2 linked regions of the Homo sapiens genome follow. The protein of the gene in region 2 purifies or fractionates together with the protein of the main gene of each other region. This does not show direct contact. Each region holds a gene or a part of one and is shown on either strand. Other genes may lie near its edges.

Region 1 (3,500 bases), on a different chromosome or scaffold from region 2:
GGTGCTACCACTCCTTCCAGTCACCCCAACGGGCAAAACAAGCCAGTTCTCCACAACCACATTGGTGAATTCTCACCTAGGACTCCAGGATGCATGCCTGCTTCCTGGAGTCACTGCCCTTGGATGGAGGTGGGGAGACCCATCTCCCAGCCAGGTCTCACCCAATCTGATGGCCTCCGACCGCCTGGAGCCTCACCTACCTCCTCAAGAACACACGTGTGCCCAGGCCACACCCCCCCACTCCCCCCAGGCTCCCCACTCACACCATCCCTAACACACCACCGCTGGGCTCTTCACCTGCATCACCCACATCCTCTCATTGGGCTCCCTACCCGTAACCAGCTTTGACACGTCAATGGTGCCTTTTAGTTTGATACGCTGCAGTTCATCTTCCAAGACCAGCTCGTCATCTGGGTGTATGTATTTACTCCGAGGAGGCTGGGGGAGCAGGTTGTGCTGGAATGCAGAGACAGGAGGTATAATCTTGGGGCCAGAGCCCACCAAAGCTCTGGTGTTAGTGAGCTGGCACCGCAGCCCCCACCCCTCTGGAGTCCATTGTCTCTGAACCTGCTTCCCCACAACCCCACCTCCAGGGAGGTGTTCTAGTGGGAGGCCAGGTCTGCCTGGCGGCCCCACTGTGTAGCACCCTGCCTCACCTCCTCGCTGACCTCCCGCAGGATGGAGGGCTGCAGCGGCATGGCCTTGAACAGAGTGCCCACCACACAGCACTTCTCCTCAGGCTGCAGTTCACACAGCTTCTTCACTCCCACTCCACTGCCTGGGACACGAGGGGTACAGACTCAGAGATGAAGTAGCCCCCCCGCCCGACAGAGGCCATGGAGGCCCTGCCCAGCACTCCATGAGAGGCCAATCACAGGGCCCTGGCCTTGCCAGGAGAGAACATCAAGTACAAGGACCCCCTGGACTTCACGGTGACAGTAAAAAGTGAGTCAGCCACAGGAGACCAGGGACTCTGGGTGTGGTTGGGCCCTGGATGCCAAGTGTCCTCATGAGAACAGAGAGACAGACACACAGACAAGAGGGAGTGTGAAGACGGGCAGAGCGGAGTGATGCGGCCACAAGCCCAGGAACACCAGGGAGGAGGCCAGGAAGGACCCTCCCCTCGGGCCTTCAGAAGGAGCCAATCCTGCTGACATCTGGATTTCAACTTCTGGCCTCCAGAACTGCCAGAGAGTAAATGTCTGTGTTTTTCTGTTATTGTTGTTTCTGTTTTTGTTTTTGTTTTGAGGCGGAGTCTCGCTGTCATCCAGGCTGGAGTGCAGTGGCGCGATCTCAGCTCACTGCAAGCTCCGCCTCCCGGGTTCACGCCATTCTCCTGCCTCAGCCTCCCGAGTAGCTGGGACTACAGGCGTGTGCCACCACGCCCAGCTAATTTTTTTTTTTTTGTATTTTTAGTAGAGACAGGGTTTCACCGTGTTAGCCAGGATGGTCTCAATCTCTTGACCTTGTGATCTGCCCGCCTCGGCCTCCCAAAGTGCTGGGATTACAGTCGTGAGCCACCGTGCCCGGCCATGTCTGTTGTTTTAAGTCAACCAGTTTGTGGTGCTTTGTTACAGCGCCTACAGGAAACTAATACAAAGTACTGCTTCACTTATACCTAAATTACAACACTGACTCTTAAAAAGAAGCATGCCAAGTCTCAACACAGCCCTGTCCCACAAATAACTGCCATTTTCTTTTAAGACTTTAGATTCTTCCACCCTACCCCCCACCCCCAACCCCCACCAAATGCTTCATCCTCTGAGACCAGAGATACTCAAAATGCAGACCTCAGATCCCCTCCACCCATTCCATTCCCGTGGAGTCAGGTGGCTTTGTTTACCCAGGGCACCTGGGCACCGTCTTCCCCAGCCCCTTCCCGGGATCCTAGGTATGAACAAGAACACATGGGAGGGGCTTGGCACTCTCGAGAAGAAAGGTATGGAGAATCAGTGAGGGCAGGAGGGAGGAATACAGGTGCCCACACAGCACAGATCCAGGCCTGGAGAAAACACCAAGGAGGTGACAGGACAACGCGGATGCCAGACCAGCCCCTTAGCCTAGCTGACTCCAGCACAGCCTGAGCCCCTGCTGCCTGGGAAGAACCAGGAATATTCCTCAAATCTACGCCCTAGGGAGCAGACAGAGGCGAGCAACTCAAAACAAGACAAGAAGGATGCCAGCAGCAGACAGAAATGCAACAGACTCCACATCCTCACGTATCCCACTCTTACTCTCCCCCAGGTGGCCTAAGCACTGTACATGTAACTCAGCCAACGCTGAAAATGTGCCAGGAGTAGATATTATCACCCAACTGATGCACAGAGAGGTTAAGCAATGTGTCCAAGGGCACACAACTGGGATCCAAGTGTATGCCCCTGAGCACTGGGCAGAATGACATCCCTGTAACCGATAGTAGGACATGCTTCCACCCAGGCAATGTGCTGGCACCAAGATCAAAACTGGACATAAAAGCCAACACTTGCCCCCACTCAGCCCACTGGGTCTAGGCAGGAGAACGACAACAGGCCATAGACAAGTAACTCGCCACAGTGACAAGTGCTGTGAACAAATGGTGAGCTGAGGTAGAAAACGGAGGCCCTCATTGCAAGGTGGCTTCAGGTGGCCCCTCAAAGAATATAACACTTCAGCTGACAGTGGGGCTTAGATGGGGCCATGGGAAGACAAGGGAAAGAGTGTGCCAAGTGAAGGGAAAAGCCTACAGCAGGAAGGTCTGGGCAGGTTTGGGGAACAGGTGAGTGGAAAGACCAATTTGGAGAGACAGGCTGAGCTTCAGTGAGGATGCACAGGCCACATGGAGAAGCCACATGTAGGTATTCAGGGTGGGGGCCAGCACCAACCACCAGGCCTGTGAGCGAGTGCTACTGCTGCCCCGCTGCTATCAACACATTCACTGTGGCAGCTGTTTGGTTTCCTGACCAGTCTGTGAGCACAGTGAAATCGCTATCGTCCATCACTGGGGAGCTTTTTTGACAGCTCCAATAACTGGAAGAGAAATGTGCGACCAGAGGAGGTGCTGCCGGAAAGAATCTAGAAGGTGGCATTGACATTGGGCCCAAGTAGTAACTGAGCTCTGAAAGGAGCCAAGGAAGGTGTCCCGAGGGCTGAAAGGAAAGTGAGGAAAAGCTACCGGAGCCGCAGGAGGGAGCCCCTGATTATGTGGGAGAGGAGAGGTGAACAGCACTTTGTCTCAGGTAAACAAAACAGAAAACATCCTGATATGATTTGGCTCTGTGTCCCCACCCACATCTCATCTGGAATTATAATCCACACGGTGTTGACGGAGGGACCTGGTGGGAGGTGACTGGATTGTGGGGGTGGATTTCCCCCATGCTGTTCTTGTGATGGTGAGTGAGATCAAGCCATCATGCGATCTGATGGTTTAAAAATGGTTGGCAGTTCCCCTTGCTCTCTCTCTCCTGCTATCATGTAAAAGAGCCTTGCTTTCCCTTCACCTTCTGCCATGATTGTTAAGTTTC
Region 2 (3,816 bases):
TCTCTGAACTTCAAGAATAACGATCTGAAGTCTGAGTGGGTTCCCTCCCTCAGGGCTTTGCTTAAGTGTCACATTCCCAGGGAGACCTTCCTTTACCACCCTGTCCCACCACCCTGTCCCGTACCTCAGCATCCCTTCTTCCCTTTCTGTGTTTCGCTTCCCTGCCACATATTTCACTTATTAGTTTGCTGACTGCCTGCCTTCCACCCACTGGGCTGTGAGCTCCATGAAGGTGGGGACTCTTGCCTGTATTGGCCACCACTGTGTCCTCAGCACCCAGAACACTGCCTGGCACCCAGGACGTGATCAGAATCGCTTGCTGAGTGAATGTAAACTCCCCAGTCTTACAACGCACATTCTTACACATCTTGTCTTACCAACCAGGTAAGGCCCTGACAACAGGGACTGCCTTTTAGATTTCTTTATAAAGTATGACCCCCTGACATGATGTATATTTGCTGTCGATGGTGAAGAGAAGGAAATAGGCTTAAATTATAGCAGTTGCACTTGACATCAAACTGAGGGGAGCACCATCTGTCAAGTGCACCTGCTATAATTCTTGAAGTTCAGAGACAGAGTGGTTATTCAGGGCTGGGATGCGGGGAAGCTTCACTGAAGCTGGTCAAGATCTCTGGCAAGCGGGAGTTCTTTAAAGCAGGCACATTGGAATGACTATCATCTTAAAACTTAGATTCCTATAAAGGCCTGGACAGAAGGTCATGAGAGTCCAGTACATTATAGTGTGAGGGTGTTGTATCTCCTTCCCTGGAGTCCGTTAGATCAGGTTAGAGGTCCATCTAACCAGCCATAAATGGGTCATAAAGATTCCCAGAGAGATGGAGAAGTGCAGAACGGATTGTTAGAAGCAGCCATTGTGGCTTTGACTTTGGGAACAGCTCTGTCTACTTTCACCCTGGCAAACTCAAATGGCATCAGATCTGTTCATTGCAGCAGGCAACTATGGATGTGGTATAAAATATAAAAGGCACAAAATATACAGGGTGCAGAGCAAGGCTCCCACCCTCTCCTACCCTCCAGCCTTCCAGTTCCCCTCCTTAGAGGCAACGAGTACTGCCAGTGTTCTATGTAGCCCATGGAGATTTTTATGCACATACAAACATATACATATGTATTTCCTTTTTTCCCCTCTCACAAATGGCAACATACCATATACATTTACTCACTTTGCTGTTTTCCACTTTGTAATATATTTTGGAGATCATTTCATGCCACTACCTATAAAGCTGCTTTATTTTTTCTAACAGTTACACAGTCCTCCACTCCTTGTGTATCTAATTTAATTTGAGCAGTGCTTTACTTACAGATATTTGAGTTGTCCCCATTTCTGACTTTAGAATGTTACCCTGAATAACCTTGTCTATATGCCACCCTCCCCCCATATAAGGATATCTGTAGGGTTGCTGCGCCAAATGATATGTGCATTTTAAATTTGGCTAGAAATTACTTAATTGCTGTTTGTACCAGGTTACCCTCTCCAGTTTATACCGGGGGCCTGATGGAGCCCATGGCCTGAAAGGGACATGGTTGCCTACACCAAGGTCCACAGCTGGGGCCGCATCCCCAGGCTATAGGTGGATTAAGAGAAGCCTTTCTCCACCATCACCAGACCATGAAATTTTTCTTAAGGAGGCATCAACTTAAAAGAAAGACTTTATGGAGAGAGCAGGGCAGAGCTGTGGATTTAAATTAGCCGCTTTCCAGCTATGGGACCTTGGGCACATTTCCTAATATAAGTCTCTATTTCTGCATCTGCAAAATGGAGCAACAACATCTATCCCTGGGAGGTAATGTGAGAATTCAGTGAAACCATGAGCACAAAGCCTGAGTATAATGCTTGCTGTCAGTTGGGTGCTGGGCAAAGGGTAGGGCTGTTGTTTTCATCATCATCATCATCATCATCATCATCATCACCATCATCATCGTCATCATCTCCATTCCTTGCCCTGCTAATTCTTCCTAACTTCCTAACTTAAATTCCTAAAATTTAAAGTTTAATACCTTTAAATTCAGGAAGGAGTAACCACAGCCAGGGCTGTCTGCACAATCACCCTGTATACAAAGCTTTGGCGTATTTACCTGCAAGCTCCTTGTAGAGGCCATCCCCCTGGGACGAAGCAAGGGCCAGCATAGTGGTGATGCTGCCCTTCACCTTCTCCACGATTCCAGTCTATGCAACAAGGACATTCAGTCTGTTAGGATGGTGCAGCCCAAGGAAAAGTGGATCTTATAAAAGGGACCCCACCCAGTCCCCCAGCCACGGAAGGTACAGACTGGGGTTGCCAAAGTCAGGCTTTGCAACCCAGTTGCAAAACGGTGAAACATTTTCAAGGACACCAAATGGCCCAGGAGGCAGCAAGACAACATTTCTGTGGGCTCCCATCTGTACAGCATCTCCCTCCCCACCTACAGGCTCGTGGGGGGCTGCAGCTCTGGTGCCAGCTGATCAAATCAGGAGCTAATGGGGAAGCATGAAGGCATGGCGGAGAGAATGGCAATCACAGAGATGGAAAAAGAGGGAAAGAGCTGGTCACTTTCCCACCATCCTCTCGTCCATGCATCTGCTCACTGGGGAGATGTTTGCTGCACACTTGCTTTGTGCCACTCACCTTACTGTACATGTCTGATTCTTCCCAACTGCCTGAGAAGTGTCTTCTTGCTACTCTTAGTCCTTTTATCAACTAAAACCCCTTTCTTCCCTCTTCTGTTTCTGCCTCCCTTTGAAAAAAATGTCAGGCTCCTTCCTCTAGCCTGGCAGAGTCTAGTTTTGAAGCTGGATCTCCTACGCTTTTTCTTTAACGTTCTAGATTCTAGATCAAGAGCCCTAAGCATACATCTCAGCTCTAGCCATGGACCTGGAACCTGTAACTCAAGGCCTCTAGGTTCCAGCTTCCTCATCTTTAAGATCAGGGAACGAGAGATTCACAGCTCCTAAACCACAAGAAGGAGTCACCTCACGCTAGAGTGAAAACGAAGCAGCAAGCCACATTATCGATCAATATATCAGAGACTAATCTGTATATTCAACAAAATACTATTCCATTCTTTAATTTACAGGACTATTGCGAAGAGGTAATTTAAAAAAAGTAAATCTTCAAACATTATGTATAAAAAGAAATTTCACCCATTGTGTAGAACTAAAATATTTTAAAAAACTAAAAGTTAACTGGCGTTCTTTAAAAAAAAAAAAAAAAATCACAGAATGGGAACACTCTATGGTCTTGCCCAGTTTTAACTTCCTATGTTTCTGTCATTTCAGATACATTTGTACATGGTCAACGTACACATTTTTTAAGCGACATAGTTTCCTGGGTGTCTTAAGATCCAGTGTCTATGTACACAATGGGGAAATGGGAACTGGCTTTATGGAGTTCGGCCAGTTTCTTGTCCATGAATTTTTAGACGGTGATAACATGTTAAAGGATTGAAACTAAACTGCTGCTAGTGAACAAGATGCCTCTTAGCCTACTCCAAGGGGAATTACATGCTTTGAATTGTAAAGAAGGATATTTTCCAAAACTGCAGTCCCGGTGGAGGAGAGGAGATTGGGCAGAAACAGGTTGGAGATGTTTCAAGAAGGCTGGTTCTGAGGTGGACTGAGATAGCAATAGGCCAGCTTCCCTGAGGGCTTGGGAGACAGGATCAGCCAGCCTGGGTTGAGGCAGAAAATGTGGAGCCTCACATGGCCAGGGAGGAAGCCCACAGTGGCATGGACTTCAAGGATCTCTACTACTTGGGGGAAAGGGGGTGGCAAGCCATGAGGCCCAGAGCAGAGGCAAGATGGTCCAGGTAGGCTTG

The links.
Region 1: the proteins of NUGGC (region 2) and POLD2 purify together in Homo sapiens (affinity purification with mass spectrometry; one large-scale study listed by BioGRID and IntAct). This does not show direct contact.

The regions. Positions count from the first base shown.
Region 1 is NC_000007.14:44,117,287-44,120,786, forward strand, and holds part of POLD2 (DNA polymerase delta subunit 2), read right to left. Parts: intron 779-3,500; coding exon 657-778; intron 457-656; coding exon 333-456; intron 1-332. UniProt on the Homo sapiens protein: Accessory component of both the DNA polymerase delta complex and the DNA polymerase zeta complex.
Region 2 is NC_000008.11:28,024,865-28,028,680, forward strand, and holds part of NUGGC (nuclear GTPase SLIP-GC), read right to left. Parts: intron 2,189-3,816; coding exon 2,098-2,188; intron 1-2,097. UniProt on the Homo sapiens protein: Nuclear GTPase found in germinal center B-cells, where it may inhibit function of the activation-induced cytidine deaminase AICDA. Reduces somatic hypermutation in B-cells which may enhance genome stability.